2 separate regions of the Homo sapiens genome follow, and region 1 is linked to region 2. The links come from fine-mapping of genetic effects on gene expression. A gene starts in region 2. The other region holds a variant in brackets. All regions are shown on one strand. Distances are from middle to middle. Region 1 has its middle 29 kb from the start of BHMT. Region 2 holds the start of DMGDH (dimethylglycine dehydrogenase).

The links.
Region 1: its variant is fine-mapped to the expression of DMGDH in T cells (TOPMed, PIP above 0.99).

The regions. Positions count from the first base shown.
Region 1 is chr5:79,132,555-79,149,306 of GRCh38, reverse strand. No RefSeq gene overlaps it. Among named protein-coding and RNA genes, the nearest start is that of BHMT, 29 kb to the right of the region's middle. The variant C/T (reference allele first, on the strand shown) is at 9,728.
Region 2 is chr5:79,061,145-79,077,896 of GRCh38, reverse strand. It overlaps DMGDH (dimethylglycine dehydrogenase), which reads left to right and starts at 8,223. Exons shown (of 16, transcript NM_013391.3): 1 at 8,223-8,377; 2 at 14,110-14,284. The coding sequence starts at 8,277. BHMT2 (betaine--homocysteine S-methyltransferase 2) reads right to left here and starts at 8,130. Exons shown (of 8, transcript NM_017614.5): 1 at 8,082-8,130; 2 at 285-417. The coding sequence starts at 8,114.

The DNA.
Region 1 (16,752 bases), 71 kb before region 2:
GATTTAATCAATCGTTAAAGTCATTCACTTTCTCAGCACCAGTATTTAGGATTCTGCCCGTGTGTGTTACCTCAGGGTTTTTACCTCTCAAGGCAATCCCAGGTTTTACATTGAGGTGCCATAGAAAGATTTGGGGTGAGTGGAAGGTGTTTTTTGTTTTGTTTTGTTTTTATTTTTTAAATGGTGGGAAGTGGTCCTTAAAGAAAAGGTGGGTGAGAAAACCCACACAACACCTGGACCATAGGTGTGTTTTCAGGCAGATTAATCGTAGGAAACAGTCCTTCCAAATGGAAATAGATTCCCTTTCAATAACCTCTGTCTGTGTACCCCAGAGGAGAGTCTTAGAGTCACACAGGCAGCTGGAAGGCTGTTCATTCCGAACCTATTTCAGAATCAGGTGTAGAGGGGCACGCACCACTAGCCCATCGCAGACCTGGAAAGGGACGTAAGCGTCCCTAGGTCACAAACCTTTCCTAGCCCTTCACTCTGATAGAAATTAGTGTTTTTCTTTAAAATATATAAATAAATGAAATGCTTAATTTCAATCAGCTTGTATAGCTCCAGTAACTTCAACCAAACTAAAATATGAATAATCTGCTGAGGGAGAGGAGTGCTAAGCTCTGGAATCATAATACACCCACTTCTAAATTCTGCAACATACTATTCAGACCTATTTAATCAGGTGCTTCAGGCCTGGCTTCTGTAGCAAGACTTTTACATGTGACCAACACAATATTTGCAAGCAATTGGCAAGATTGTAATTATTTACAATCACATCCACCAGAGCAAGTAGGTAACACATTGTTTTACACAAGCCAAAATTAAAATACAAATTTGGCAACTCAGTTTCCATTCATTTAGCAAATATTTATTGAATCTGCTATGTGCCAAGAATATATTGGCTCCTAGAGATTTTGAAATAAATTCTACACTAATTAGCTTCTTGCAGGAAGGTGTGCATATAGTGATTAAGAGCAGCAGACCAGGTGCGGTGGATCACGCCCGTAATCCCAGCACTTTAGGAGGCCGAGGCGGACAGATCACTTGAGGTCAGGAGTTCGTGACCAGCCTGGCCAACATGGTGAAACCCTGTCTCTACTAAAAATACAAAAATTAGCCAGGTATTACACGCTCCTGTAATCCCAGTAACTTGGGAGGCCGAGGCAGGATAATTGCTTGAACCCGGGAGGTGGAGGTTGCAGTGAGCCGGGACCTCACCATTGCACACCAGCCTGGGCAGCAAGAGTGAAACTCCATCTCAAAAAAACAAAAAGGAGCAGCAGATGCTGGGCCCACCTCTGGCTTCACTCTTGCTCTATCCTTCTGGTTTAGGTGGGTTCAGGCAAGTCTCAGTTTCCTCTTCTGGAAAATGTAAATAATAATACGTAGCCATTCTCTTGTTGTGAGGTTTGAGGAGATAGTCATGTAATAAGCACTCAGGAAATGGTAGTTATTATGACCATTATTTTTATTCCTCCTTCCACCCGAGCACCTGGCATAGTGTCTGCACATTGGAATAGACACTCAGTTAATGCTACTGAGTCAACAAATGAATGGACAAATGACAACAGCAACAAATATTTGAATGTGCCACTCCACTTGTAGACACATCGCATTGATAAATTGGGCACCATGACACATGCCTGTAATCTCAGTTACTTGGAAGGCTGAGGCCAGAGGATTCAGAGGATTGCTTGAACTTGGGAGCTTGAGACCAATCTGGGCAACATCTCAGCAATATCTTGTCTAAAAAAAAAAAAAGGAAAAAAGAAATTACGTTTTTGCCAAAACAGGTTATTCTCAAAAGTACGGGTTTATTTACAACATTTAGGCCACTCTAATGCTAAATATCTTTAAAAATATTTCTTCCTTCCTTTTACTATTCAATGGAGTCATAGGTCTTACTTCCAGAAAGCTTTCTGTGTATTCAAACATTTTCCCATCTCTTTCATTAGCAGAATCTGTCATGTAAGATTTATTGTAGATTTTTAAAAAATTATACAAAATAGTTCCAGGAAATCCAAAAGTTTCCTAGAAACATAATGATCTAGCAAGAAAAATATTTTAATATGCACTTTACACTGACTTGGATCCTATTTTTTGCTCTTAATCATTAAGTAGGGTTATTACAATTTGGAAACATAAATAAAGCTGAGGAACTGGAGAGCAGGCTTGTTAATCACTCTACCTGGTTTTATGGATCCAGTCCTGAGTGTGCTTAAGGAAACAGTTTAAAATTTTGCTCAAAATAAATGTCATTAGGGCTGGGTGCGGTGGTTCACACCTGTAATGCCAGCACTTTGAGAGGCCAAGGTGGGTGGATCACTTGAGGTCAGGAGTTCGAGACTAGCCTAACCAAAATGGTGAAACCCCATCTCTACTAAAAATACAAAAATTAGCTGGGTGTGGTGGCACACGTCTGTAATCCCCAGCCACTTGGGAGGCTGAGGCAGGAGAATTGCATGAACCCAGGAGGCGAAGGTTGCAGTGAGCTGAGATCATGCCACTGGACTCCAGCCTGGGCAACAGAGCAAAACTCTGTCTCAAAAAAAGGAAAAGAAAAAAAAAAGTCATTATTCCCGATTATACTTCCTTTCACATGCAAAAATATTTAAGCCATTCTTTAGGTTATGTTAATACTTTAGGTGATGTCATTACTTTCCATCTCTTATCCTGTTTGGAAACTTAAGCCCAGCTACTGAATTGCACAAGCAGTTGAAGAAAAGAATTAGGAATTTGTTTTGTTCTCTTTCCTAGTTCTGTTTTTCATTCTCTGCATGCCTACTCCTGCCCACAAATCCAAGGCTACAGCCTTTCTCTCTAAAACATATTTCTGCCTACACTGTACCCACTGGTTAATTTACACAGCTCTGATTCATCTTGACAGTCATATGTTTCCGACAGGTGAATACCTCTGGGCAGTCACCTGGAGACGGTTTTCTGTAATCATACAAGTTTCATGTTGTGCTGTGTACCACCCTTATTTTCCAGGCATAGATGTGACAGAATTCCCAATTCTTGTCCTATACCCTTAAGATATTTGTGCTTTTTTTCCCTGTTTCTTCTTATGTGTGTCTTGGCAATCATTTTTAGTTTTTCCAAGCTTTGCAATGTTCCTCCAGATAGTTTATTGACCCTGTGTTGTTTTTTTCTTTTAGCTTGTAATATAGTCATATGTCGCTCTAGTAATATATTAGTCAAAGATGATTTCTGTGGGGCCATATAAAGTATATAATAAATGGAGAAACCTGCAGATAAAAATGTGGAAGTTACAGGAGGAAATCTGTTAACCAAAAAGGAATAAGCTTGGGCTGGCTAAATTTACATAAGTGAAGGGTATCTTTCAGCTTCCCTTTCTTTGTCTTGCTTCTTTATTCCTTTCTACCTGCAGCATTACTTAGCTTCTCAGAAGCTCAGCATTCCCAATTTGTCCCAATTTCTGATCAGGAAGAAAAGAAACTCCTGGAAAACCACCTCTGAGGTGGCTGCCATACTTACCATCTCTCTGCCTGTCTTTTAAGCCTGACTCCCTCCTTCATGGGGTGGCTACCGGGTAGCCATTTTGACACTAGATAACCCAGCCCTGGCCATGGTGGATTGTACTAGGAGTGAACATCTGACCCAAAGTGACAATCAGATTCTTTCTCCACAAATCCTGATTCCATTTTAAACTTCAAGTTCATGTTTGATTTAAAGTTCTCCCTTTTCCTTCAGTACATACCAGGTTTGTAGCCTCGGTGACTGTGTGTGATTTTGTGTTTGTATGTGTGAGTGAGAGAGGGGTAGGGTGTGTGCTGTTCTCTCACAAGAGCCCACCCTTTTCCATCGTGTACCCTTCTAGCATGGGGAGAGGGAGGAGGGAAAAGGAAAAGATACCTCCTGAGGTGGAATTGCAGTCAGCATTGCTGTGGGGCTCATTGTCTCTGAGAGACAAGGATGGAAGCCCTAAAGGGAATCAAACCCAAAGAGTACCAGAGGTAGACCTTTGAGAGACTTAGATAGGTTGCAAACCAGAGGTAGACCTTTGAGAGACTTAGATAGGTTGCAAACCAGAGGTAGACCTTTGAGAGACTACCTCTGGTACTCTTTGGGTTTGATTCCCTTTAGGGCTTTAGGGCTTCCAGCTGGTGGAACCACCTTCTTCTAAGGCCAGAGCCTCTTTGCCTCATGCCGTGATGGCTTTGACAAGGCCATGGCCTCCAATCTCACATACTTTCCAGGATTCCAACTATGGGGCTTCTGGGGAGGAAGCAGCCTCGTGTTCTCTACTTTCAAGAAACTGGGAATTTGAGGGGGTGTTATCTGGCCCCTCTTTTTCTGATCATACCATTCCACTTTTGGCCTCAATGTTCCTTCTCCTGCTGGTAGCTCGAGGTAGATAGGCAAGAACAGTGTTCACAGGTCATGCAAGCAGGGACCAGGGGAAAGGCTTCCCTCTTCCCTGAAACCTGTAACCTTGGTTTGGTTCCGTTGAGTTCCTCTCCCTTAGTTTTGAAGAAGAGGCCCAATCCAGGGACTGGGGTCTCTTATCAAACCTTATCTTTGCCCCCAAAGGGGAAAGTTCTCCTTTAGACATTTTCATAATATTACCTGGCAAACCAGTCTAGTCTCTCCTGGAAGTACAGGAGTCTCTAGTTAGCAACTGGGCCCTCTTTATTTTAGCTCTGAGAATTTCATAATTTTTTCTCAATGCAGAACTAACTGCACTATTCTGGTAACAATAGGGGTAGGACTAGCTCTCAATAAGGAGCTAGATGTCAATGTGTGTTGCAAAGGAATGATCTTGAATTGGTGGTATTCTTCAAATCCCACTATGTTAGTGCCTTATGTAAGACTCATTCTCATGAGAAAGCTAATGGTTTGGTGATTTTCCTCCATCAGAATTCAGCAGCTTCCTTATAGGAATAGAGAAAGTATGCAGCAGGATTGCTCCAAGGCTGAGGGGCTTTTGGGGAGTATGTGGCAGAGAAGAAAAGAATGAGGAAGTGAAGGTGCACTGGAAATTGGTTAAAGTGATGAACCATGGAATCTAGGTTGCAGGGCACTGAGTGGTTCTCCACCGTGACTGCATGTTGGAATCAACTGGGGGGAGCCTTAAAAGCCCTGCTGATTGAGCCCTTCCCCCAGAGCATCTGACGTAATTGATTAAGCCAGCTTAGTCATCCTGAGTCATGAAAGCTCCCCAGGTGATTCTAATATTTAGCTAAGGTTGCAAACCAAAGCAGTACATCAGGAAAAGAAGTGAAGTTAGATTGGGGCTGATAGATTGAAAAAAGAATGAAAGGCGAAGGGATTGGGGATCCCGGATGTAGTAGGACTCATTGAGGCCTGGATTCAGGAGGGAGGCTGCCTCTGAGAGTGGGATTTCAGGGTGGAAGGTCATTATGAATTTCAGGTGTGGCTTAGCAGGGAGTGGGGGCAGTTGAGGTGAGCTGGGAGGGAGACAAAGTGGCTGCTAAGACAGCTTCAGACTGGGTCACCTTCGTGGGTGTTTGGAGTTCTCTGGGATTGATGGCTGGGGTTGATAGAATTCGTAAGGAGGTGTTCAAGCTTTTGCTGACTGTGGTGGAGAGACATGGAGGCAGAAGGTTGAAAGAACAAGGACAGGAAGAAGGTGGGCTATTGTTAAGAGATGATCCTCAGAGAAGAGGCTTTTGATGGGGTGGTGCAGGGGGTGGAAGAGGAATGGTTGGAAGTTGCAGTGGGAGCATGGAAGAGCTGCAGCCAACTCCTTTGCCTGTGGGGAGTTTTGGAGAAGGTAAGAAAATGAGCAGTCTGCCATAAAACAGAGCCATAACAGAAGTGAGGTTCTGGAAAATAGAGGTACTCTTTAATATTATTATTTTCTTTTATTATTATTTTGAGACAAGGTCTTGCTCAGTCACCCAAGCTGGAGTACAGTGGCTCAATCTTGGCTCACTGTGACTTCTGCCTCCCAGGCTTAAGCAGTCCTCCCACCTCAGCCTCCTGAGTAGCCGGGACTACAGGCACATACCACCACACCCAACAATTTCAAATTTTTAAATTTTTTTTTGGTAAAGACAGTGTTTCACCATGTTTCCCAGGCTGGTCTTGAACTGCTGGACTCAAGTGATCCACCCATCTTGGCCTCCCAGAATGCTGGGATTACAGGCATGAGCTGCTGTGCCTGGCTATTATTTTAAATTGAGTCATAATTGTACATATTTATGGTGTACAGTGTGATATTTTGATACATATATGCAATGCATAATGATCAAATCAGGTAATTAATATACCCATCACCTCAAACATTTATTATTTCTTTGTGTTGGGAATATTCAAAATCTGCCCTTTTAGCTATGTGAAAATATGTAATAAATTGTTTCTTCAATATTACTGAGGTTTGGTCTCCAGATGGTTGAGGATTTCTGTGTAAACATTTTTCAGAATAGAGTGAATAGATTATTTGGGATCCATGTCTTAGCCTATGGTGTTCAGGGGTCACAAACTGGCTGAATTCAGGCTCTGGTGTGTTTAGCTCACACCAGAGTTTGGGGAAAAAATAAATTTGAGTATTTTTTATGCAGAGCCTGCTGTTTCCGGTTTATGCAGCTCCACCTTTGGGTTGAAAACTGAGCTGTTTCATACATCTATATTACTTACTTGCCTCCAAGACTTTTGTTTCCTTAATATTTTATTATGAAAAATTTCAAGATACAAAAGTTGAGAGAATGGTATAATGAATCACCATATCCCATTACCCAGACCTGAAGACTTCTGATGTTGGGACTCCTGGGGAGATAAAAAACAGTAGTGCATTCTGGAATCTTCACAGAAAGGGCAAGATATTTTAAAAAGGAAAGAAAGAAAAAAGAGCAGTGCAGGCCGGGCACGATTGTTCACGCCTATAATCCCAGCACTTTGAGAGGCTGAGGTGGGTGGATCATCTGAGGTCAGAAGTTCAAGACCAGCCTGGTCAACATAGTGAAACCCCATCTCTACTAAAAATACAAAAAATTAGCTGGGCATGGTGGCGGGTGCCTGTAACCCCAACTATGTGGGAGGCTGAGGCAGGAGAATCACTTGAACCCGGGAGGCGGAGGTTGCAGTGAGCTGAGATCACGCCACTGCACTCCAGCCTGGGCAAGAAGAGCGAAACTCTGTCCAAAAAAAAAAAAAGGCAGTGCAAACCATTTTTTTGCAGAAGCTTTTCCCCTAATGTGGAACGTGGAATGCCTTGCTCTCACACCCACCTTGACTTTCTAGTCACTTTTTTTTTTTTCCTTTTTCTGAGACGGAGTTTTGCTTTGGTTGCCCAGGCTGGAGTGCGGTGGCATGATTTCGGCTCACTGCAACCTCTGCCTCCCAGGTTCAAGCGATTCTCTTGCCTCAGCCTCCCAAGCAGCTGGGATTACAGGTGCCCGCCACCACACCCAGCTAATTTTTGTATTTTTAGTAGAGATGGGGTTTCACCATGTTGGCCAGGCTGATCTCAAACTCCTGACCTCCAGTGATCCACCTGCCTCAGCCTCCCAAAGTCCTGGGATTACAGGCATGAGCCACTGAGCCTGGCCACTAGTCTTTCTTTATGTCTCTATAGGAGCATTATCTTTTTATTCATTTTTCCACATAATCATTCAATAAATATTATTAAGTCCCTTGTGTGTGTCAAGCCCTCTCTTGTAGGCACTGGAGTTGGGACAATAAGTAAGAAAAACAAGGTTCCTGTCCTCTTAGGACTTATAGCACAGGGAGGAAGAGATAGAATGTATACAATAATTAAATAACCAAATAGATCATGTGAAGTGCTATGAAGAACAAAAGTACCTGGTGCGGTGGCTCATGCCTGTAATCCAGTCACTTTGGGAGGCCAGGGTGGGCAGATCACATAAGGCCAGGAGTTTGAACCAGCCTGGCTAACATGGCAAAACTCTGTCTCTACTAAAAACACAAAAAAATTTTAGCTGAGCATGGTGGTGCGTGCCTGTAATTCCAGCCACTTGGGTGGCTGAGGCATGATAATCACTTGAATTCAGGAGCCAGAGGTTGCAGTGAGCCAAGATTGTACCACTGCACTCCAGCCTGAGTGACAGAGCGAGACCCTGTCTCAAAAAGGGAACAACAACAATAACAACAAAACTAAAGCAAGGCTACTTGACAGAGTAACCAATCAAGGTTTAGGGGTTGAGGGGATCGGGGTGGATGGAGAACTTTAGGTATTCAAGAGGGCCTCCCTGAAAGGGTGACACTTGATCTGAGACATGAATAACAGGAAGGTACCACCACTTGAAGATCAGGAGGCAGAGGGAACAACCAGTGCCAAGGCTCTGAGGTAGGAATGAGCTTAGGGGGTCTGAAGAACAGAAAGAGGTGAGCAGAATGGAAGTGTTTCTCTGGGCTTCCTCAGGGCACCGCAGCCCTCACTATGCTGGTGTAAGCAGCTTTTCTCTGTGCCTTCACAGCATCATTTGTGGCATTTATGGTCTTAGTCTGTTTGGGTTGCTATAATGGAATACCTGAGACTGGGTAATTTATAAATAAAAGAGGTTTATTTGGCTCGTGATTCTGGTGGCTGGGAAGTCCAAGATCAGGCAGCTCATCTGGTGAGAGTCTCCTGCTGCTTCAACTACTGGCAGAAAGCAGAAGCAGGATGTGCAAAGAGACACATAGGAGAAGCTGGGCTCACTTATAACAACTTGCTTTCTTGGGAACTAATCCATTCCCATGAAACCGAGAACTCACTCACTCCCACCAGAAGGCATTAATCTATTTATGACAGATCTGCCTCCATGACCATATACCATCACTAGACCCTACCTCCCACGACCGCTGCACTGGCAATTAAACTTCAACATGGGTTTTGGTGGGAGCAAACCACATCCAAATCATAGTGTCTATTAGAGCACTTAAGTCCTTTAGTGAGGGCTTGTCTCCCTCACTGATCCAGGAACTGACAAGTGGCATCTTTGTACCTCTCAGCCCTTAAGTCCAGTGTCAGGCCTCATATAAGGTGCTCAAATATGTGAAGCATAAATATGTGCATGTAGGAATGAAGAGAATGGGAGTGTAGGTTCAAATTTGGAAGTAAGCCAACCACAAACATTTTCAGCTCCTAATAGTCTGATGTCTGAGAAAAAATAATGAAATGTTTCTGTAATTTTCAAGTTTTCTTCTTTCTAGCAAGGGTCTCCCAAATATGCATTCATGTTTTTTCATTCATCAAATATTTACTGAGCTCTTACTATACCCAAGGCATTATTCTAGGCACTCAGGTATGGAAGTGAACAAAGTCAAGTTCCTGCCTTTGAGGAGCTTATATTCTAATGTTGTGGGGAAACAATGAATGAATGAGTGAATGAATAAAATATGACCAAAAATGCACAGCAGGTGGTAACAATCACTATGGAGAAGAATAAGCACCCCAATGAAGATAGAGGATATAGAAGAGGGGTGTGTTGCTATTTCACATAGGGCAGTCAAGGAAAATGAGCCATTTTTTGTCCTCTGGGAATCACATGCTGAGAAGGACATAGAAGTGCAAGATTTTGCTGGAGGGGCAGTGGAAATACTAGTGAAAATTAAAGGTAGAAGGCACAGGAGTAGGCAGAGACACCCTTCAGACTGCAGTGCAGTCTGACACTTTTGAAAAGAGAGGAAGAGGAGATAGGACTGGGCAGAAGTAGAAGCTGAACTGCAATGCAGGTCAAAAAATGCCTAGGCCAATCTGGTGGTGAGTTCTGGAGAGAATATCTCCTGTCAGAGTTGC[C/T]GCTAGTCAGGCCAGAATGCCAGGGTTTTATGCCCTTGCTTTGCTCAGGCATCAGATGCAGGCTGGCCTGGGAAGGATGTGACTTTGAACAAAGGGTCTGCAGCTTTGACATTGAAGGGGATGGCAGCTGGGGGCTGCAGTCACATAACCCACAGATGGGCAGCCTGTCCTTCCTTGAAGGGACATCTGAGTGCATGACTCAAGATCTGTGACACAAGGCAACTGCAAAGTTTTGAAATGATGACTGACATGATATGACTTAGTTCTTAAAAGAATCATTCAGGACACTCTATGGAGAATAGATCTGAGGGAGACTAGGGAGGAATTAAGGGAACTTGTAGAGAAATTTATTGTGAAATATTCTAGGTGAGAGATGATGGCAGCTTAGTCCATTACTCCCTAGGAAATAAGGAGGAGGAAGTGGAACGCAGTCAAATTTGGATGCATTTTGTAGGTAGATCTGACAGGCTTTGCTGATGTATTGAATGTGAGTATAAGAGGAAGAGAAAAGTCTAGGATGACTTCAAGATTTTGGCTTGAGCAACTAGAAGAGTAGAACTTCCATTTTCAAATATGAAAGATCCTGTGGGAGAGACAAGTTTAAGTGGGCAAGGGAAGATCAGGACCTTGTTTTCAGAGTCCAACTGGGCTGCTCCTTGGGTGTGGAGAGCTCTGGGAAAATATTTTTATGGAGCACCTACATATATATATATATATATAAAATTAGATTTTAAAATATATTTTTAAAGGTATTTGATTTAAAAACATATCTAAACATTCATGGGCCTGTGTGAGGTATAGTGAGTGACATGTTCATGAGGATTTAGAATAATGGGTTGAGAAGAGGTAACTGCTTGTTGTCCAATTAGTGCACATAAAGATTCTTCATAGTATCCAGACACCATCTGTCCCTATTGAGGAACAGGGACAATCTCTTGTTCTTTATTGTCACATGTGATACTTTCATATCTCCCATTGTGAGAAAAACATAGCAATGCCATTATTACTGACAATGCCATGCTTCTTTGGAAACTGTATTGAGACAATATGGATCTTGTTTCTGTAGCTCCCCAACACCATTTGTTTAATACTGGTTATATCATTACTCCTGGTGGTACATTAAGCATCAATGGATGCTTCTGAAAACTGGCATCCATTAAATGACTCTCTGTGAGGTGGTTACTGTGCTTTGTTGATGATGACCACAACTGCAAGTCTTACCAAGAATATATGGGAACAGGCTGGGCACAGTGGCTCATGCCTGTAATCCCAGGACTTTGGGAGACAGAGGTGAGCTGATCACTTGAGCCCAGAGTTTGAGAACAGTTTGGGCAACATGGTGAATCCCCATCACTACAAAAATACAAAAATCATCCCAGCTTGGTTGTGTGCACTTGTAGTCCCAGCTACTTGGGAAGCTGAGATGGGAGGATTGCTTGAACTCATACTACTGCACTCCAGCCTGGGTGACAGAACGACTGTCTCAAACTAACATATATATCTATATCTATACCAATATATATATTCATATACATATTCATATATATTCATATACATATTCATATATATTCGTATATATACATATATTCATATATATTCATATATATTCACATATATATTCATATATATTCACATATATATTCATATATATATTCACATATAGATTCACATATATATTCACATATAGATTCACATATATATTCACATATAGATTCACATATAGATTCACATATATATTCACATATATATTCACATATATATTCTCATATATATTCACATATATATACACATATATTCATATATATATTCGTATATATATTCACATATATTCGTATATATATTCACATATATTCGTATATATATTCGTATATATATTCGTATATGTATATTCGTATATATATTCGTATGTATATTCATATATATTCGTATGTATATTCATGTATATTCGTATGTATATTCATGTATATTCGTATGTATATTCATATGTATATTCGTATATATGTATATTCATATGTATATTCATATATGTATATTCATATATATTCATATATTCATATATATTCGTATATATATTCTTATATATATTCATATATATATTCATATATATTCATATATATTCATTTATATTCATATATTCATATATATTCATATATATTCACATATATTCACATATATTCATATATATTCACATATATTCATATATATTCACATATATTCGTATATATTCACATATATTCGTATATATTCGTATATATTCGTATATATTCATATATATATTCGTATATATTCATATATATATTCGTATATATTCATATATATATTCGTATATGTATTCGTATATATATATTCGTATATGTATTCGTATATGTATTCGTATATATATATTCGTATATGTATTCGTATATATATATTCGTATATGTATTCGTGTATATATATTCGTATATATTCGTTTATATATTCGTATATATATTCGTATATATTCATATATATATTCGTATATAATATATATATTCATATATGTATATTCATATATATATTCATATGTATATTCATATATATTCATATATATGAATATATATTCATATATATATATATATATATACATGAAGTGTCAATAATTCATTTTATGTTAGATTCTTGTTTACGCTTGAGTGCTGCAGACCATAGGTATTGCTGCAGTCAGAACCCTCACAGGTGAGAGCCAATGAAGGCCTACGTTCACTGCTCAAGGCAAGGGGCAAAGGTCCTGAACTTGTCCTGTGTCTGATGTGAGTCAGCCAAAATCAGAGTGTCAGCACCATACTGGGTAGCCCAATCTCACCAGATCTTGGGATAAAATACAGTTCCTGCCAGCAGAAGCCATCCTATCACCAGGGCTCCCTCCTGGAACCAGGACCAACATAAAGCCTTAGGCTTCTTAGGGCACTTGGTCACTCCAGGAGTGGGGTGGGTGTGAGGGACATGGTACGGGGATGTACAGGGTCACTGAACACTCAGAAGGAGACAAATGAGGACTGGGTCCCATGCTGACTGGTCCAGGCTTGGGGTTCCCTTCCTAGATGGCACAGCTGGCCCTGGCTGCTCTCAGCCACTGGAGGAGGATGTAAACAATTTTGAGGAAGGTGCCTCTGACAACCAGGATCCATGTGGGACCTGCTCCAGACCTGGGGCATCTGCCTGAATGGCCATGGGAAGTGGCTTGGGGCCTGAGGTACAGGGTCCGGGCCACGGACCGCTGGCTTGGGTCTACAGGCCAGGCTGATATCATGTGCCTGAATGCTGGGGAGTAGTCCAGGCTGGAGAGAGAAATCTGGGAGTCATCAAGCTGCTGAGAATGGCCTGATGGAAGGAAAAAAATCCTGAGGTGTCTAGCTCCCAAATTCCACTCTCCTATTCTCAAAATGTGAGAAGCCAGCTCTCTCCCTTCCTAGGTAGATGAAGGACTCTAAACCAAAAATTACTCACTTGATGATTTTTAGAATATTTAGCTTATGCAAATCTACAAAGAATTCTGAACCTTGAAAATAGAAACAGTTCATAATATGAAAAACCACAGACCCAAGTCTCCTTAGAAAACAGTACCTGTGGGGAGGAATGACATTTTCATTTTTCAGCACCAGGCTGAGTCTAGGGTAGTAACATTTTCCCTGCCCTCTGAACAGTGTTACTTGTTTTAGTCGGCTGTCTGTTTAGCCAGGGGAATAATTAATTAACAATTTCAGTCCGCTGGAAACATACCACCAAGTGGCATTCAGTAAATATTTATTGACAATGATGAGGCTATTATTTATTTATATCATCAAATCGCAAACAACTGTGGAGTTTTCCAGCAAGGCATTAGAAACTTGTTATCCTACAGTTGAGAAAATTGAAGGACAGAGAAGTGGGGTGATTTACCCAATGTTCTGCAGGGAGTTGGGGCAAAGCTAGGACTTGCACCCCAAAGTCTTGATTCTAAATGTCTTCCTTGCTTTTTCTGCTATGTGCCACTAGTGTTTTTGAGCCATAGGTGAATTCCACTAAGCTACCTCAGGTGTTTAGGACGTTAACTTTTGCAAAGAACAGTAAAATCTCATTAAGTCAGAATAATTGGAAGAATGACCAGGCTGACTTGAGAAAAAGTCTGAACTATTTAAAAAGATATTCAGCTTTTTCCTTTCAAGATCATGTAGTAAATTGGAACAAATAACCACAGAATGGGGCCAAGCAGAGGTCTTACTGAACCTGCCCAAAAGAACAAACTGGAATAATTTCTGAAGGGTACATTAACAGTTTGCATGCAAGTGATGACTGCTAAAGATAGTTCAGGCATTTAGAGAAATATCTTTTTATTAAAAATAAGTGAAATGTTTCCCTTAATACATTTCATGTAAGTATTTACATAGGAAACTTTCATAAATTTATTTATTTTTATTTTTATTTATTTATTTTTTTGAGATGGAGTTTCACTCTTGTTGCCCAAGCTAGAGTGCAGTGGTGCGATCTCGGCTCACTGCAACCTCCGCCTCCCAAGTTCAAGTGATTCTCCTGCCTCAGCCTCCCAAGTAGCTGGGATTACAGGCGCCTGCCACTACGCCCAGCTAAGTTTTGCGTTTTTAGTAGAGATGGGGTTTCACCATGTTGGCAGGCTAGTCTTGAACTCCTGACCTCAAGTGATCTGCCTGCCTTGGCCTCCCAAACTGCTGGGATTATAGGCGTGAGCCACCGTGCCCAGCCTGGAAGCTTTAATAAATTTAAATGTAAACATCTAACCATCTAACCACAAGTTAAAATGATCATGCGTTTGATTTCATGGCATATAAATTAACCTGTTTTTACTGTTTTGCTGTACATGACTTGTTTGGTATTATTCCTGTAACTCACAGCAGCATAAATGATGACATCTGTCTCTCTCATTTTCCATCATCTTAATTTTTCATCTATCCAATGCCAACAGAATGCCTCCAGCTGCTTGAAAACCGGAAGCATTTTCTGGCCATTCCTTTCTCTCACCACACTCCCACCAATTTTACCAAAGGATCCTACCCTTCCTGTTACCATTTTTGAGAATTCTTTGCATTTGCCTGCCTTTCATCATTTTCTGTTCAAACACTAAATATTCCTTCCTGAAGATGTTTAGAAATATTATACCTTGCTATCTCTAATTCTGTCGTTTAACATCCCACCAGGCATACTATTTCTGAAGCCGTTCATAAGTCCTATTTTTCTCTCTTGAAATTGACTTCTTCCTCCTTTGTTATCTAAGAGCCAGGGTCCTTGACCTGGCAGGTAACACGTGGGAGGTTCCAGACTGACTGAGTGGATGTTATTGACTATCAAGGAGGCTATTTGGGAGAACAGTCTATAAAGCCCTCAAGCCCTTCAGTGTGCTGAAGGCTGGAAAAAAAAAAACGTTTCTGGGGAAAATGGGGATCTAGTTGGAGATGCATAAAGCCTGCCTGCCTGCCTGCTCTCCTGCAGTCCCTCCCCGCCCTCCTTCCTCCCTCCCTGCCTCTCTCCTCCCTCCCTCCCTCTCTCCTTTCTTTCCTTCCCTCCCGTTCTCCCTCCCTTTTTCCCTCCCTTTCTCCCTTCCTTCCTCTTTTTTAATTCCTGACTCAAACTTGTTAAAGGCTTTTCTTGATGGGTGCGTTGTCCTGGATGTGATTCAAAGATCCACATGTCTTAAGAAAAAACTGACCAAAACTGTTAGAGCTTAGCCTGATGAAATAACTTAAGTTCAAACAAAATAAGGTTACTCATGCATTTCCTGCTGGCGACCTGCTGCCCCCATCTGGAGAAGTTGGGAACGGATGTTCTTGATTCATTCCTGCGCAGTTCTTGTTTCCTTTAGGGGTCTGCGTTGGCTTGGCTGTCTTATCCAAAGGTGGTTTGCTACAGTGTGTAGAAGTGTCAGAGTACAAACTGCAAACAGTTTATTTAGTGAGTTCATGTTTACTCTGAGTAACGCCAAAGACCTTTATTTTATTCCTGGCTGGAGGATGACTCCTTAGTTTTGTGGACCATCTGTTCTGGTACTGCCCCCCAGCTTCCCCAACCCTTCCTACAAAAGGCTAAGCTAAAGCCGTCTTTCTTGACAGCCTTGGAATAGTGAGAAGTGCTTCCTGACTTTGCATCCTGCCTTGGTAATCTTATCCTTAAAAGGATAGTTTGGACTTTTGATCTCTAAGGTCCCTCTGGTTCGGAGTCCATAAAAAATATTTACCAGTGAGAAATGTCTATTTAACATAAATCAACTCTTAGGTATTAAATGAGCTTTCTCTCTTAATGAACAAGATTTCTGGAAATAAAATGCACATGTTTGGAGGAGGGACTGAAATTTTAAAAACAATTTCAAAATATGAACTATACCACTAGGAGGCAGTGTTGACATATAATTTAATTCAAGAATGTCTTTACCATAGCTCCTTTTCAGAAAAATATTTTAAAAAACGATGGATATAAAAATGATTAAAGGTTATAATATTTTGGTGGCAACAAAACTCTGAAAAGAATATTAAAGGAACATGCATTTTACACAGTAATAGAACAGCAAGTCCAATAAAATGTCATCTGTGAGTGAAAGCTTTAAATACTGAGCTTGGTTTGAGAATATAAGAGAAATGATAGATAACAACTTTGCCAAAAAAAAAAACAAAAAACAAAAAACAAGTGGAGTTCACTCTTGTTTCCACTAGCCATATGCAGCCTCTGAAAGTTGTGCTGCTTTGGCTCTGTTTCTGTGCATTGAGGGATTAGGGGTGGATTATTAACTCTTAGTAACAAAATTCTAGCAATTTCTTTGCCTTTCCATTTATTTATTTATTTGACAGAGTCTCACTCTGTCTCCCAGGCTGGAGTGCAGTGGTGCAATCTCAGCTCACTGCAGCCTCTGCCTCCCAGGTTCAAGTGATTCTCATGCCTCAGCCTCCCGAATAGCTGGGACTACAGGTGTGTGCCACCACACCTGGCTAATTTTTGTATTTTTAGTAGAGACAGGGTTTCACCATGTTGGCCAAACTGGTCTTGAACTCCTATCCTCAAGTAA
Region 2 (16,752 bases):
GATGTGGGGTTGGGGTGTGAGTGCATGGATGTGTGTGTGTGGGAGTGTGTGTGGGCGTGTGGATGGGTGGGTGTGTGATGTGGGTAGGTGTGTGTATGAGAGAGAGAGAGGTCATTTTCTTCCATATACTTCCGCCTGTATACTGCCATTATCTCCACATCTTGGCAATCTTAGCAAGCAAAACACCCCTTTGAAACAGTTGTTATTTTTTTCTTGATCTTCTCTCAATCAGATTTAAATAAAATACCACTCAGGTAGACACTCTTGGGGATGTGGACACCAACCTGCGTCTGGGTGTTCTATCACTGCCTCTGGAGTCCAGAGCCCAGCCTTCACATAGCCTCTCTTCTCCAGAGTAATGAGAAAGCTGCCATCTCCAATCACAACCTCCCCACTCTCCAGGCGCTCCAAAATCCCCTGAAGAAGAGAAAAAAAGCACCTAAGCTCCGCTCTACTTTTTTTTTTTTTCCTAAAAGCATTTTCTAATTTTAGGTGAAGTGGTATTACGTTCTTAGAGCTGTAGTTTTGTTAAAATCATGTGCTCTAATAATATTTCAGAAAGATTGAGCATACCATATTTCTTGGCCGATCCAGGTTCCTATTTTGTACAATGAAAGGGCTGAGACTATTTATTCTTAAATAACATTTAATCTGAGTCAAATTATAGCACTGATTCCACGATAGTTATTTTGGCTTTTCAACATGTTTGTGACAACACAGCTAGTTGTCTACCTAGTGTGCATTCTCTCCCCTGTTTTTGTGTGGGGGGACAATGCCCCTAACTTTCAAAAAATTCCCAGGTTCCTTTGCCTCTGGGAGCAGCCCTGTGACACAGTGCTGGCCAGTGAGACACATACGGAAGCTGGTGGAGGATTTCTGGAAAAGTTTTGCTTTCCTGACATAGACGCCCACTCCCTTCCCTTTTGTCTATTTTCCTCCTTCCTGGCTGGAATGCCAACATAATGCCTGGGAATACAGCAGTCATCTGACAGCCATATGAGGCAGATTTCTTAAGACATCCTTGGGTGGCTGCGGCAGCCATGGGCTGTTACCCCTGGACCTCTTGTTAGGTGAGAAAAATAATTTTTCTTCGTGTCAGCCACTGAACAGAACGGTAGTGGACACAACGCTTTGTAGTCATGCAGTGTGTTCACACGTGTCTTATCATTTGGCACTCCCAGCAACTCTGCCAGTGAGGCAGGACACAGTTTTTATTCTCAGGTGTAGATGAGGAAACTGAGGCTCAGAATGGTTGACTTGCCCAAGATCACAGAGCTAAGTAAGTAAAAAATCAGACTAGCTTCTAAATTCCTACTCTCTTTTCCTTCTATTTTACCACCTTCCTATTTAGCCCACTCATAACTTATTTAAAAGGTTCCATTCAGAGCAGTTAGCCATGGGGTGCAGTTTCCTTTTGATACAGAAAGGCCTCAGGCCTGTGCCCACAGACCCTGGTGAGGATAGGCACTCCTGTTTTTGCGCCCAAATGTTGCATTTTCCAAGACCACCCTGGCCCGCCACACCTCCATCCTGTGCCTATAAAAACCTCAAGACCCTAGCAAACACAAACACAAGCAGCTGGACGTTGAGAGGAACACACTGGCAGAAGAACACACAGACTCTGGCAGGCCATCGGTGGCAGAATGACACAGACGAAGTGGAATTCAGCCAGGGGTAATCAGAGGAGAGTCTGGCTGCTGAGCGGCCTGACTCCAGGGGAAGACCGCCTTCCCACTCCATCCCCCTTCTGGCTCCCCATCCATCTGCTGAGAGCTACTTCCACCATTCGATAAAACCTTGCACTCATTCTCCAAGCCCATGTGTGATCCAATTTTTCCAGTACACTGGCAAGAACCCCAGGATACAGAAAGCCCTCTGTCCTTTCGATAAGGCGGAGGGTCTAATTGAGCTGATTAACACAAGCTGCCAGTGGACAGCTAAGCTGAAAGAGCACACTGTAACACACACCCACTGGGGCTTCAGGAGCTGTAAACATTCACCCCTAGATGCTGCCATGGGGTACCTGCATGCTCCCCCTAGGGGTTTAAGCTGTGGGGTGCTGAAGAAGTGATCCACGCCTCCATCACACACCCTGCAAGGGGCATAAGGGAACTTTTCCCATTTCACTTGGTCTAAAGCACATCTCCCCAGGTGCCTGCAGGGTCATCCCCTCACTGCTTTCTGGTCTTTGGTCAAGTGTCACCTTTTCAGAGATGCCTTCCCTGAGCAATGCAAACCACCCACTCCTCCCAACTCCCCACAGCAATCCTGATCCCTCTTTTGTAGGCTGCATCAGTGGAAGATGCAACCTTTTATTGATAATAGGCCAGTTCATTTCAGGCCTGCCCATAGCTGGACACAAAGCAATGAATGGATCAGGGAGAAAAGCCTCAGATGCCTCTTTTAACTAGTCTTATCTGTTCTATGAAATCAACATAAACCCCCTCAGTTCCTGAATCCAAGGGAGACATCAAGCAGGGTACATAGGCAGCTTACTGGCCTACGTGTTGGGTGTAGGGTAAAACTAAGCTGTGTAAAAAAGAGGCCCCCACAACAGTGGCTTTAAATAAAAGTAGTTTCTTTTTCCTCTGTAAGAGGAAAGCCACTGTTTGTGGGGGACTCTTTTTTACAGAGTGTGCACCAAATTGCACAGTCCTTTTATCTTATTGCTTTGCCATTCCCTACGGCAGGGGTCAGCACATGACAGCCCACAGACCAAATCTGGCACATCACCTGTTTTTGTAAAAACAGTCTTAGGTAAAACCCTGCCCATTGATTTACATATTGTCTAATGGCCACTTTTCCACTACAGTAGCAGAGTTGAGTAGTTACCACTGAGACTGTATGGCCCCCAAGGCTAAAAATAATTACTATCTGACCCTTTACAGAAAGCGTTTGCCAACCCAGCCCTAGGGTACTGTCCTCCTCAGCATGGGGGAAACTGGATCAGAGTCACGTTCATACTCTGTCTCAAACGATGAGGAAACAGTGTGGCAAAGCTCATCCTAAAGTTTTTAGCTCAGACCTAGAAGTGACTCATCTCATTGACATTTACATTTCCTGCGTGAGAGTTTAGCCACATGGCTCTACCTTGCTGCAAGGGAAGCCAGGAAGTATCATCAGTGAATGTCCATGTGTCCAGCTCCAACGCTAATCCTTCGGAAGGAGGGGGAACAGATTTTGGAGAGAAACTGCTTCTGTTCTAGTGTCTGGCATCTGCTATTTCTCCTTTGCTTACTCCCCACACAAAGTGACCCACCCAGGTGTCAGGAGCGAGCTTCCTTGGATACCAAGGAACAAAGAGATCCCAAACACATTTTGGCCATATTGCTTGATATACTATTTTCTTCAATCTTTTCCCAGGAGGCTGGAAGGCCATAAAGGCAATAAAGAATAAGAGGGAAGCTAATTTGATCTTGGTTACAGGAGTCTTTGTCCTTAGCTGGGTCAATCCTGGATCTAATAAAAGCAACCAGAAATTAAAGCAGACGTGAGGATCTTCCCACAGAGCCTCCCAGGACAGTCCTGTTAACAGTATGGAACCAAACATGAGAGGTCAAATATGGCTTGAATAATCTCTTAATCTCCATCGAATGGCATGACTAGAGAGGGGGCTTATTCTAGCTTTCTCCCCATGTTCAGTTTAGCTGCAGAAGTACAAACCACTCTGACTAAGCAGAAAGGAGTTTAATATTGAGAAATGGGTACATAAAAAATTTACACTGGGCTTCCAGAAATGACCCCTAGAAAAACATGACTGAATTGGCCGGCTGGGGCTGCACCCTCTGCCACAACTAAGAGAAGCCACTATTGAACTGTTGGCTTCAGGACACAGCTGTCATATAGGGAGAAGGAGGCTGCTCCAGCGACCTCAGCTGCCCCTCACGTGACCCTGGAATGCTGCACTATGGCCACATTTGCTATGCTTCCACCTTCCCAGACTCATACTGGTGCATCTGATTGGGGATGCTAGTTCTTATCCAGATCCTAGCTGCAAAGGAGTCTGGCAAAGTGGTTAGTTTTCTTTCCTCTGCAGTGCAAGAAGGTCCATCAGAAGGGGTTTAACTAGAGGTAAATACCAGGTCACTCTACCTACAGCATCTTTTTACTGTGCACTTGGAGGGCAGGCAAATGGAGCCCAGCTGTGTGAACTATGTTAAACATAAACACTATTTTGGCAGAGAGAGCTCTCAACTCTGGTTATTTTTCCATATTTTATATCTAAAGCTGAATTTTAGCTGAATGCAGAAGAAATGTTAATATTTACTGATTCTCATCTCTTTCTTTCTCCTCCCTGCATCAAATGCAATTCACTCTTTTCAATTTGTACTTTTGAAATATAAAAAAGGCCTTAAATTTTGGACGTTTATTGAGACCTTCCACATGTCAGGTATAGTTGTGGGCAAGTGGGATAAACATCAGAATAAGACAAGGTCTCTGCCCTCCACAAGCTCAAAGTCTGGCTACTTTGGGGAAGGCCAATAAATCAACAAATAATCACAGCAGAATGTGACCAATAAATGCTACACAGGAATACAGAAGAGAAAGTCAGAGGTACAGTTACTGTGTACAAACTGTTTTCCTGAAAATCCCATACACTTCATTAGGTTCACCATGTTAAGAATCAAATTTAGGCCAGGCGCGGTGGCTCACGCCTGTAATCCCAGCACTTTGGGAGGCTGAGGCAGGCAGATCACTTGAGGTCAGGAGTTTGAGACTAGCTTGGCCAACATGGTGAAACTCCATCTCTACTAAAAATACAAAAATTAACTGGGCATGGTGGCAGGTGCCTGTAATCCCAGCTACTTGTGAGGTGGAGGCAGGAGAATAGCTTGAACCTGGGAGTTGGAAGTTACAGTGAGTTGAGATTGTGCCACTGCATTCCAGCCTGGGCAACAGAGTGAGACTCTGTCTCAAAAAAAAAAAAAAAAGAATCAAATTTACTCAAACAATTGTCGAGGGAAAACATTGGCACAGAATTCAGATGTTGTAGGTTAGCTTCTCACCTCCCACATCCAACCTATCACAGGGTTATGCCAAGTGTATTACACATTTCTCAAATGCCCCACCATCCTCACTGCATTTGATTATTGAAATGGTCTCCAGTTCTCTCCAGCCCTACTCTGAACTGTCTTCCATTGCTACCAGAGCACAGGCTCACTGACCCAGTCTCACCTGTGATTATACCCCTTTTGTGTCCTGCTTAACTTCACAGATCCTTCATTCATGCATCCCCCTGTACAGCAGTATCTGGTTACTTACTTGTCACCTCAGTTTGACTGTAAGAGGCTTGGGGGCAGGTGACATATCTTATTGGTCTATATCCCTACCACCACATATAACAACTAAAATGAGTAGACACTTAAGAAACTATGCCAAGAATTAGCAAATAAACAGGACTGTTTTGAAAATGTCAGATGTATTGCATATGCTAGAATTTTTGTCCTGAAGAAGAAAAAATGTTACTCTTTAGCAGACAATTAGGTAGGTTTTAAGAAAATTGTAGTATATATTTTGACTGTGTCTTTATGAAACCAAGTAAAGGGAGGACATTTTCATTTGTTATCTGGATGTTTGTCCACCATTTTAAATTTGCCATTTTTCTTTTCTTTTCTTTCTTTTTTTTTTTGAGACAGAGTTTCACTCTTGTCGCCCAGGCTGGAGTGCAGTAGCGCGATCTCAGCTCACTGCAACCTCCACCTCCAGGGTTCAAGCAATTCTCCTGCCTCAGCCTCGCAAGTAGCTGGGATTATAGGTGCATGCCACCATGCCCAGCTAATTTTGTATTTTTTAGTAGAGACAGGGTTTCACCATGTTGTCCAGTGTGGTCTCGAACTCCTGACCTTAGATGATCTGCCTGCCTCGGCCTCCCAAAGTGCTAGGATTACAGGTGTGAGCCACTGTGCCCGGCCAATTTGCCATTTTTCTACATAGCCATTAGCAAAATAACTAAGTTATCAAGATTTGAGATCAGAGCATCTTTTAGCCCTTCCTTCACTGCTATTCTAACTACCTCAATTAATTACTATACCAGTATGATCCCTTCTTTAGTTTTTTTTTTTTTTTTTTTTTTTACTTTTAAGTTCAGGGGTACATGTGCAGGATGTGCAGGTTTGTTACACAGGTAAATGTGCATCATTGGAGGTTTGCTATATGGGTTATTTCCTCACCCAGGTATTAAGCCTAGTATCCATTAGTTATTTTTCCTGATCCTCTCCCTCCTTCCACCCTCCACCCTTCGATAGGCCCCAGTGTGTGTTGTTCCTCACCATTATACTAGTACGATCTAAAGTCAACTGTAAAATTATAAAGACAGGAACATGTAAAATAAGGAACCCTGTAAATTAATTTTGCAGTACATTTATATTTTCATTCCCTCCTCCCCATCAGTTTGGCAGTGAACCTGCCTTGCATCTGACAGCGAGCTCTAGGGTGCATTTATGCCCCCTTTTTGCAGATATCACTACGTAAGACCTCTGGGTTTAAGATCTGGCTTCAAGACATCTCTATTCATACTCAGTGGGGATCAACTTCACTGTGTAGTAGGAGGTGATCAGAAAAACCCAGTCTGTCTAAAATAACTTCCCCTTTTCCTAGATTTGCCAGCAGAACTGCTCTTTTGGATTTAAGACCTAATTGGAGGTCTTGTCTGTGGCAATTAAATGAATTCTTAAAATGTACCTGCTAGCTGAGGAGAGAGGTGAGATTAGTTCCTTCCCATTAACACCTTAACTCCCAGGTACACATTCACATGGATTAGTGTGTGATAATCTTGGTGTTGTAACAGTAGAGGCCCCAAAGACACTGAACAAAAACAGGGCATTTTAAAAACGTTTAAAAATATGAACTGTAAAGATGAACATAGCATTAGAGAAAGTTGAGAGAAAAAAGCACAATGTTCTTTGATTATTTTTATTAACTGTATTCTTTCAATGCTCACATTTTGCTTTTATAACCTGAAAAAATATCCTAAAACATGCTTTTTAAACCAATATTCCACATCTTGTGTAACTATTACCATTATTGTGTCCTTCCTTACAGTGTGTATATAAATATTTGTATATGGTTGGGATCAGTTTGTGATATATTTCCTTTTGCAACTTAACATTGCCAAGGCACTTAGCTGGTTCTCATACTAAGTTATTTAACTGTCTAATAACTTAAGTAGATGAACCTTAATTTATTTAGAATCCCGTATTGCAGAGTATCTTGGTCGTTTCTAACTTTTTAGTATAAATAGCTCGGTGGTGCACATTTCCACGCATAAACTGCCCCTCCTCCCTTCCTCCCATTCTGAATGACAGGGCTGGAGCGGGTGGGGGTCTCTGAAGGGTCCTGGGGATGTCTTTCGTCCAAGCTCATGCCCTTCCTAATTTTGCTTAGTCACTCCTTCATCCCACCCCCACACATACTCGACGTAGAAATGGCTGGGCATAAAGCCAACATCTGGTGACCAGACCAGGAAAGGGGCCAGGAGCTGGGGACCACCGGGTGAGAGGAGGTTGAGGGGTGCTAGCGAATCCCACCTACCCTCCACCCTGCACCGCAGCTCTGGGGGCGTCCTTGCCCAGGACTAGTTTCAGACCAGCCGGCGACTCGCAAGGCCAGGCTGCTTGGCCAGGCTGCTGACTTTTCCAAAACGCGAGGGGACAGTCCGAAGAGTTCCCGGACGGATTAGCCCAAAGAGCTGCGGGCGAGGGTCGGTTGAGGGAAGAAAATGTGTGCGCGACATGCGTCCGAAAGCTAGACTTCTGATCCTCGCTCCCCGCGGGGCTGGACCCGTGACCCTGAGCTAGTCGCCTGACTCGCCGAGCCTCAGTTTCCTCACCTGTGAAATGGGGATAATTGTGAAGATGAGGAGATAACTTGAGCACAGCACTCTGTGCAGCGCCAGGCACCGAGTAAGGGCTCCATAAACGCTAACCAACCCGTGACAGGGGAAAATTGAGGCTCAGGGCCATCCCGTCCAAGTGTTTTGCCGAGGCCCCAGGGCTTGGCTAGGGATGGACGCCGGGTGTGAACGGAGTCGCTCGCAGCCCAGCGGCCAGGAGCTCCGCGAGGATCGAGGGGACGAAACTCACCTTCTTGGCCCCCGGGCGTCCAGCAGGTGCCATGGTGCCGCGGCTCTGTGGGCGCCGGGTTCCCGGGCGCGCGGCCGTCTAGGAGCCCGCCCCCAGCCCGGGGGGAGGATCCGACCCCCGCCCCGCCGGCCCCGCGGCCTCAGGCTGCCCGCTGGCCTCGGAGCAGGCGCCTGCGCCCTCGGCCTCGGCCTAGTCATGCTCCGTCCCGGCGCGCAGCTGCTGCGGGGCCTCCTGCTGCGGAGCTGCCCGCTGCAGGGCTCCCCCGGGCGCCCGCGCTCTGTCTGCGGCCGGGAAGGGTGAGTGGGGCCCCGTCCTGCTCAGAGGCGACGGGGCGGCTGCGGGGGTGGGAGCCAGAGGCTGAGGCAGGCTCAGGGGTTAGGAGCGCTCTGGCCTCCAAGAAATAGGCCTTGATATATCTTCTCGAATTATCTTTTAATTATAAAGTGAAACAGTATCCAAAGGTTCCCCGTGTAAAGTCTCTCCTGCCCCAATCCCCTTGGCCAGTGAACAATTGTTAATAGTGTCTTCTGAATCTAACCAGAGACAGTCTACGCATAGGCAAACACAGGTCAGTATAGGTTTTCCTTTGGCTTTTTGACATCTTGCTTTTTACAATTATCAATATATCTTGGAGATTGTTCCATATCAGCACACACTGACTTGCCTTGTTCCTTTTAATGGCTGCATAGTTTTCCATCCTGTCAATATTCTACACTATCGTTAGTCTATTCATTAACATTTAAATGGTTTTTGGTTGTTTATTACTGCAAATAACGTGCATGTGAAAATTCTTAGGCATCTATCTTTGAGTACATATGGGAGTCGGTAGCAACAGTTTTTAAAGGTGAACTTGTTAGGGAAAAGGTTACGTGCATCTGAAAGATTGAAAGACAGCAACACATTCTCCAAGTGGGTGGCAAGAGTTTGCATGCGGCACACCAGTGTGTGTCTGTTTCCCACATCTTCCCTGGTTCCCAGAATAGCCCATTTTGTTATCTTTGCTAAATCTGATAGGTAAAAATGGCATGTCCTTGTTTTGATTGGTCTGTATTTAAATATGAGCAATGCTGAACATCTTTCGACTTCTTATATTTGTAGATTATTCCTGGTTGCCAGGAAAGGCTTGTTTATCAGCATCACTCAACATTATTATGAGTTGATTCGAATTTTATTTTATGTCCTATGACCTGAAATTCTGGAATCAGAAGACCTGCTTTTGAGTTCCATCTATCCATTCAACAAATATTTACTGGGTGTTGTGATGTGCTAGGTTTGTCTCCAGTACTGGGAATGCAGTAGCCACCAACTCACAGTTCCTGCGCCATCTGTTACACAGAATGTGACCTTACACTTCTGAGGTTCAGTTTCCTCATCTATAAAATGAGGATACTAATTTTGCTCTATATAACTCACAGGATTGCTGTGAATATTAAATAAGAGAATGCATGTGAAAGTGCTTTGTAAATTGTAAAGCAATGCAAAAATATTTATAATAATGATGTTTTTAATCCAGTGCAAAATAAAATGGAAATTTAACAAACAAACTGATTAGATAAATAAGATACAAATTTCAAGACTATCCAAAAAATTCATATTTTGGCTGAGTGTGGTGGCTCATGCCTGTAATCTCAGCACTTTGGGAAGCTGAGGTGGGCAGATTACTTGAGGCCAGGAGTTTGAGACCAGCCTGATCAACATGGTGAAACTCTGTCTCTAATAAAAATGCAAAAATTAACTGGGTGTCATGGTGTGCACCTGTAGTCCAAGCTGCTTGGGAGGCTGAGGCGGGAGAATCGCTTGAACCTGGGAGGCGGAGACTGCAGTGAGAACCGAGATTGCACCACTGCACTCCAGCCTGGGCGACAGGGATTCCATCTCACAAACAAAAACAAAAACACCCAAAAGTTGAGTTATTTCAATTGCATATTCTTTATATACCCAATTTCAAACTATCAAAAAATGTTTTATTTTGGAAAGCAGTTGAACAAGCATACAGTTTGTGCTTATCATTTCTAATACAGAAGATAACTGACCTGGGTTTTTTGCATGGCTCCTAAGTTTTATTTCAAATACTCTTATAAACATCCTCGACTACATTCAGAAGGATTTTAAGATAGTTATCCACATAATCAAAAACACTATACCTAGTCTGAAACCTATTATGGCATGCTGGGCCGAGGAAATACTATATATTTGATAATGCTTTATCATATGTTGCCAAACAGAACCTTCACAGCTCCGTTTTGCAAATGAGAAAACTTTGAGACCCTTGTGTAAATTTCTCTAAAATAGCTGTTCAGTTGGATTGGGGACTCAAACCCAGGTTTCCTGATCTTAAGTTCTCTTTTGTTGTTGTTGTTTCAACTGACCACTGTCCTGAAAGAAATAATTCTTTCTTTTGAACACACAAAAAAGAACCTTTAAGATTATTATTTTTGTCACCACTATAATGGTTTCAACTAAAGTACAAGATATGCCCAGTCTGTTTAAAAATGGATTTCCGTCCAAAGTAGTTGGGTCATATGTACATTATTTTTTTCTCACACAGCATACAAAGAGACATTAATAGTCATCTAAAAACCGGTGAAACAAAACTGCTGAAACATGTTGTGGCACCAGGAAATAAGGACATGCTCTAAGAATTATGTAGCCATGTCAAAAGCATACAGGAGTCAACTGAAAGAACCTCCTGCTGGCCAAATCTAGGACAATTTGGTATTCAAATAAATGATGACTAGTAATGGATTAGAAACCACTGAAAACAATAAATATCCATAAATTCATGTTAATATAAACAACCAACAAACAAGGGTGAAAGAAAATTACTTCCTTACAGTAGAATGCCAACTATTAAATATAATAGGAATGATGGGGTTAGGAAATAATCAATAGATGTTAAAGCCACTCAGTAAAAGTTTGATAAGGACCAGGATATTTACATGGTCTCAAAGTAACACTTCACATTATTACTTATACAAAGGAAAAAATGGTAGCTTTACTAGACAAATCAGACAGACACCACCTTAAGCAAGTCATCAGACAGAAACAACACCAATATCAGGACAAACCAACATCATACGCTTCTTAATCATATACACTGGGAAGGAGTCAACATCAGTTTCATGATGTTTTTGCCAAAAATGCATAACATAAGTCTCATCATGAGGAAACACCAGACAAACTCACAGTAAGAACTGTTCTATAAAATAACTGGCTAGTACTGGCCGGGCGTGGTGGCTCACACCTGTAATCACAGCACTTTGGGAGGCTGAGGCAGGCGGATCACGAGGTCAGGAGATCAAGACCATCCCGGTTAGCATGGAGAAACCCCGTCTCTACTAAAAATACAAAAAAAAAAAAAAATTAGCCGGGCGTGGTGGTGGGCGCCTGCAGTCCCAGCTACTTGGGAGGCTGAGGCAGGAGAATGGCATGAACCTGGGAGGTGGAGCTTGCAGTGAGCCGAGATCGTGCCACTGCACTCCAGCCTGGGCAACAGAGCAAGACTCCATCTAAAAAAAAAATAAAATAGAATAACTGGCTAGTACTCTTCGAAAATGTGAAGGTCATAAAACACAAAGGAAGTATTAGGAACTGTTCCAAATTAAAGGGGATTAAAGAGACAGAATCCTGGATTTGATCTCTGACTGGAAAAAAGTAGCTATAAATTGATTGGAATAATTGATTAAATTTAAATATGGACTATAGATAATAGTATATCAATGTTAAATTTCTTGACTTTGAAAACTGTACTGTTGTTATGTAAGAGAATGTCCTTTTTCTTACCAAACTAGCAAAAGAATATTTAGAAGTAACTGGGTATGATACCTACAATTTACTCTAAAATGTGTATACACATAGAATATACATATTATAATATACATATATGTATAGTCATGTGCCTTATAATGATGTTTCGGTCAATGATGGACCACATATACAATGGTGGTCCCGTAAGATTATAATGGAGCTGAAAAATTCCTATCACCCAGTGATGTCATAGCTGTCATAATGTCATATGCAACACATTGCTCACGTGTTTGTAGTGATGCTGGTTAAACAAACCTACTGTGCTGCCGGTCACATAAAGCTATAGCACATGCAATTACATACAGTACATAATGCTTGACAATGATAATAAATCACTGTGCTACTGGTTTATGTATTTACTACACTATACTTTAAATCATCATTTTAGAGTATACTCCTACTTATAAAATAAAAAGTTAACAGTAAAATTGGCTCAGACAGGTCCTTCAGGAGGTATTCCTGAAGAAGGCATTGTTATCATAAGACATGACAGCTCTGGCCGGGCATGGTGGCTCATGCCTGTAATCCCAGCACTCTGGGAGGCCAAGGCAGGTAGATCACTTGAGGTCAGGAGTTTAAGACCAGCCTGGCCAACATGGTGAAACCCCGTCTCCACTAAAAATACAAAAATTAGCTGGGCGTGGTGGTACGTGTCTGTAATCCCAGCTACTCGGGAGGCTAAGGCACAAGAATCGCTTCAACCTTGGGGGTGGAATTTGCAAAGATGGCGCCACTGCACTCCAGCCTGGGTGACAGAGTGAGACGCTGTCTCAAAAAAAAAAAAAAAAAGGAAAAGAAAAGAAAAAGAGATGACAGCTGTGTATGTGTTATTGCCCCTGAAGACCTTCCAGTGGGACAAGATTTGGAGGTGTGAAGACAGTGATATTGATGATCCTGACCCTGTGTATGCCTAGGCTAATGTGTGTGTTTGTGTCTTAGTTTTTAATAAAAAAGTTTGAGGCCAGGCACAGTGGCTCATGCCTGTAATCCCAGCACTCTGGGAGGCCAAGGCTGGAGGATCACTTGAGGTCAGGAGTTCAAGACCAGCCTGGCCAACATGGTGAAACCTCATCTCTACCAAAAACACAAAAATTAGCTGGGTGTGGTGGTGCACACCTGTAATCCCAGCTACATGGGAGGCTGAGGCAGGAGAATTGCTTGAACCCAGTAGGTGGAGGTTGCAGTGAGCCAAGATCAAGCCACTGTACTCTAGGCTGGGCAAAAGAGTAATACTCTGTCTTGGAAAAAAAAAAGTTTGAAAAGTTAAAAAAATATATATATTTTGTAATAGAAAAAAGGTTCCAGAATAAGGATATAAAGAAATAAAATATTTCTATATAGCTGTAGAATGTGTTTGCATTTAAACTGTTATTACAAAAATCAAAAAAATTTAAAAGTTTATAAAATAATGAAGTTACAGTAAGCTGTTAATTTATTATTGAAAAAAGAAAAATACATTTAAAAATAAACTTAGAGTAGCCTAAATGTACAGTGTTGATAAAGTCTACAGTAGTGTACAGTAATGTCCTAGGCCTTCACATTCACTCACCTCTCACTCAGACTCATCTAGAGCAACTTCCAGTCCTACAAGCTTGATTCATGGTAAAGTACCCTAGACAGCTGTACAATTTTAAATCTTTTTTTTTTTTTCCTTTTGAGACAGGGCCTCACTCTGTCTGCTAGGTCTGAGTGGAGTGGCGCACTCATGGTTCACTGCAGCTTCAACCTCCTAGGCTCAAGCAGTCCTCTTACCTCAGCCTCCCAAGTAGCTGGGACTATAGGCATGTGCCACCAAGCCTGGATAATTTTTGTATTTTTTATAGAGACGGGGCTTCGTCATGTTGCCCAGGGTTGTCTTGAACTCCTGGGCTCAAGCAATCTTCCCATCTCGGCCTTCCAAAGTGCTGGGATTACAGGTGTGCATCACCAAACCTGACCTGTTCTCTAGATTCTTTGAAAAAAAGAAGCTACTTGTTCATTTCTTTGGCTATAGTAGCTACAATGGACCAGAATCATTATATGGAATGGGGCTCAAACACCCCTCCCCCAACCAGGTTGCCTAAATCACAGTTTAGATGCTCCAAATTATTAAATCAGTATCATGCAAATCTCAGTCAGTGGGTGTTAAGTACTAGAGAAACGGGTAAGGGGAAGTGCTTTAGGCCAGAACTATAGCTACCATTGCCGATTGAAGTTCCCATTTTAACTTTCCCTCTTCCAGAGAGGAAAAACCACCCTTATCTGCAGAAACACAATGGAAAGACAGAGCAGAAACAGTGATAATTGGAGGTGGCTGTGTTGGTGTGAGTCTGGCTTATCACCTGGCCAAAGCAGGGATGAAAGATGTGGTCCTGCTGGAGAAATCAGAGCTCACGGCTGGATCTACCTGGCACGCAGTAAGAAAAGCACCCCAAACTGTCATAAGCGTGGAATTGTGCATGAGTAAAGTCCATTTCCTTCCCGTTCACAACTCCCAACTGTGAGCTCTTTAGAGTGCGTTCCCCTTCAATAGCGTTGGAAGTGCAGTTGTAGTTTAACTGGTGTACTTCCAGATGACAACCAATATTTATGATGTCTTTATCTTGAACAGATGGCTTCTGGATTCGAATCCTGGCTTTGCAATTTTCTACCCTTGTGTGACTTTTGGCAAGTTACATAAGTTTCCATTTTCTGATGTCTTAATAGGAATATTAATAGTACTTACCTAATAGGATTGTGATGAAGATTGAGTTAACATGTGCAAAATTATTAAACGCAAGGTATTGGATAATAAATGTCAGCTTTATATGGAAGGATACTGTCTGGGTGAGCCTGGATATGGGCCCAAGATCTTTACCTATACTCCCCTCACCTGCATTTGGTGGTCCTTTTATTTACTTATGGTTTTATTTATTTTTATTTTTTATTTTTTATTTTTTTTGAAATGGAGTCTCGCTGTTACCAGGCTGGAGTGCAATGGCGCGATCTCGGCTCACTGCAACTTCCGCCTCCCAGGTTCAAGCGATTCTCTTGCCTCAGCCTTCCGAGTAGCTGTGACTACAGGTGCACACCACCACACCCAGCTAATTTTTGTATTTTTAGTAGAGACGGGGTTTCACCGTGTTGGTCAGGCTGGTCTCTATCTCTTGACCTCATGATCCGCCTGCCTTGGCCTCCCAAAGTGCTGAGATTACAGGAGTGAACCACTGCGCCTGGCCTTATGGTTTTAATTTTATGCTGTGAGATGACAGTTTGGCCCCCTGAGGACTTGAATATGAGGACTGCAAAAGTGTAGCACAGCTTTTGTGTTACATGAGACACAGGCCAAGTCAGTCTTGCATTCTTCATGGTATGCATAATTGTTCCAGGGCTGCGCCATAATTGACTAGGCTTACCTGGAAAGCTGCCCAGGTAGATGAAGGGATTGACACTGCTGTCATATTGCCAAACCAGGGATTTCTGACATCATTTAGGGATGGGAGAGGAAGTTTTTAGGACTGCTGGTGCAGTTTTCTTTTGGGCAGCGTTAGCCCCTGCTCATCATCCCATTTCATCATTAGCCTTCCTTGGCTGAGAAGAGGGAACCTCACTTTGAGGGGCTTTTTGACATCTAGTATGTGCTCAAAGTATAGGGTGGAGAGTCTAGCATGAAAAGGATTGCCTGCTTCCAGCTGAATCTGGGGGAGAGTGCTGCCCAGACATAAAAGCCCAAAGACCTTGCCCTTGTGGAACTCACATTCTGGTGGGGCAGACAGAAAACACCTATCAATGCTAGAGAGTAATCACCATGAAGAAAAGTAAAGTACAGTCAAGGATGCAAAATGATGGAGGAGGAGAAGAAGGAGGTGCTAGGGAGGATGTTTCAAAGAGGCGACCTGCCAACAGAGACCAGGGAGCAGTGAGCCAGGGGGCCATGAGGCTATTCTGGAAAGATCATTTAGGCAGGGAAATGTAGGCAAGTGGAAATACCCTTCGAGGGAGGGCTTACACCCTCTCACCACTTCTGAATTGTTACTGAGGGCATACGCTTTAATGTTTGAATTACTTATTTGCTCACTTATATACTGATTTAATGTGACCTGCATTGGATTTTATTACTATTATTATTATCATTATTTTTTGAGACAGGGTCTTTCTCTGTTGCCCAGGCTGGAGTGCAGTGGTGCAATCATAGCTCACTATAAGCACAAACTCCTGGGCTCAAGCAATCCTCCCAGTTAGCTAGGATTATACAGGTGTGCGCTAACATGCCCAGCTATTTTCTTAATTTTTTTAGAAATGGGGGTCTCACTATGTTGCCCGGGCTGGTCTTGAACTCCTGGCCTCAAATGATCCTCCAGCCTCAACCTCCCAAGACTTTAGAATTACAGGCATGAGCCATCGCACCTGGCCTGGCCTGCATTTTAGAAGAGGTTACGGGATTCCTTGAAATTTTATTTCTTAGATGTCCCATGAATAAAAAGCAACATACCCTTAATCTAAAAGTTAACTACGCAAAATATTTTTTTCTTAAACACAAAGATACCAAAGTGAGTGGGGAAAGGCATTATCCTGCTTTGCATACAAGGTATTAGGCTATGGTTTACAAAATAAGGATCCATGCAATGTGAGTTCAAGGTGGAATCAGGCATCAGAAGCCAGGTTATTTGGCCCCCTTGGAATAAAAGACAGTTGTCCTAGGAAGTTGATTCTAGGGTTTTTTGCAAGTCAAAGATGCCTCCCTCTGAGCAGCAGCATGAAGAAATCCAACATATTAGGTGTTTGTGTGTGTGTGTGTGTGTGTGTGTGTGTGTGTGTGTGTGTGTGTGTTTGAGACAGAGTTTCACTCTGTCACCCAGGCTGGAGTGCAGTGGCGTGATCATGACTCACTGCAGCCTCAACCTAC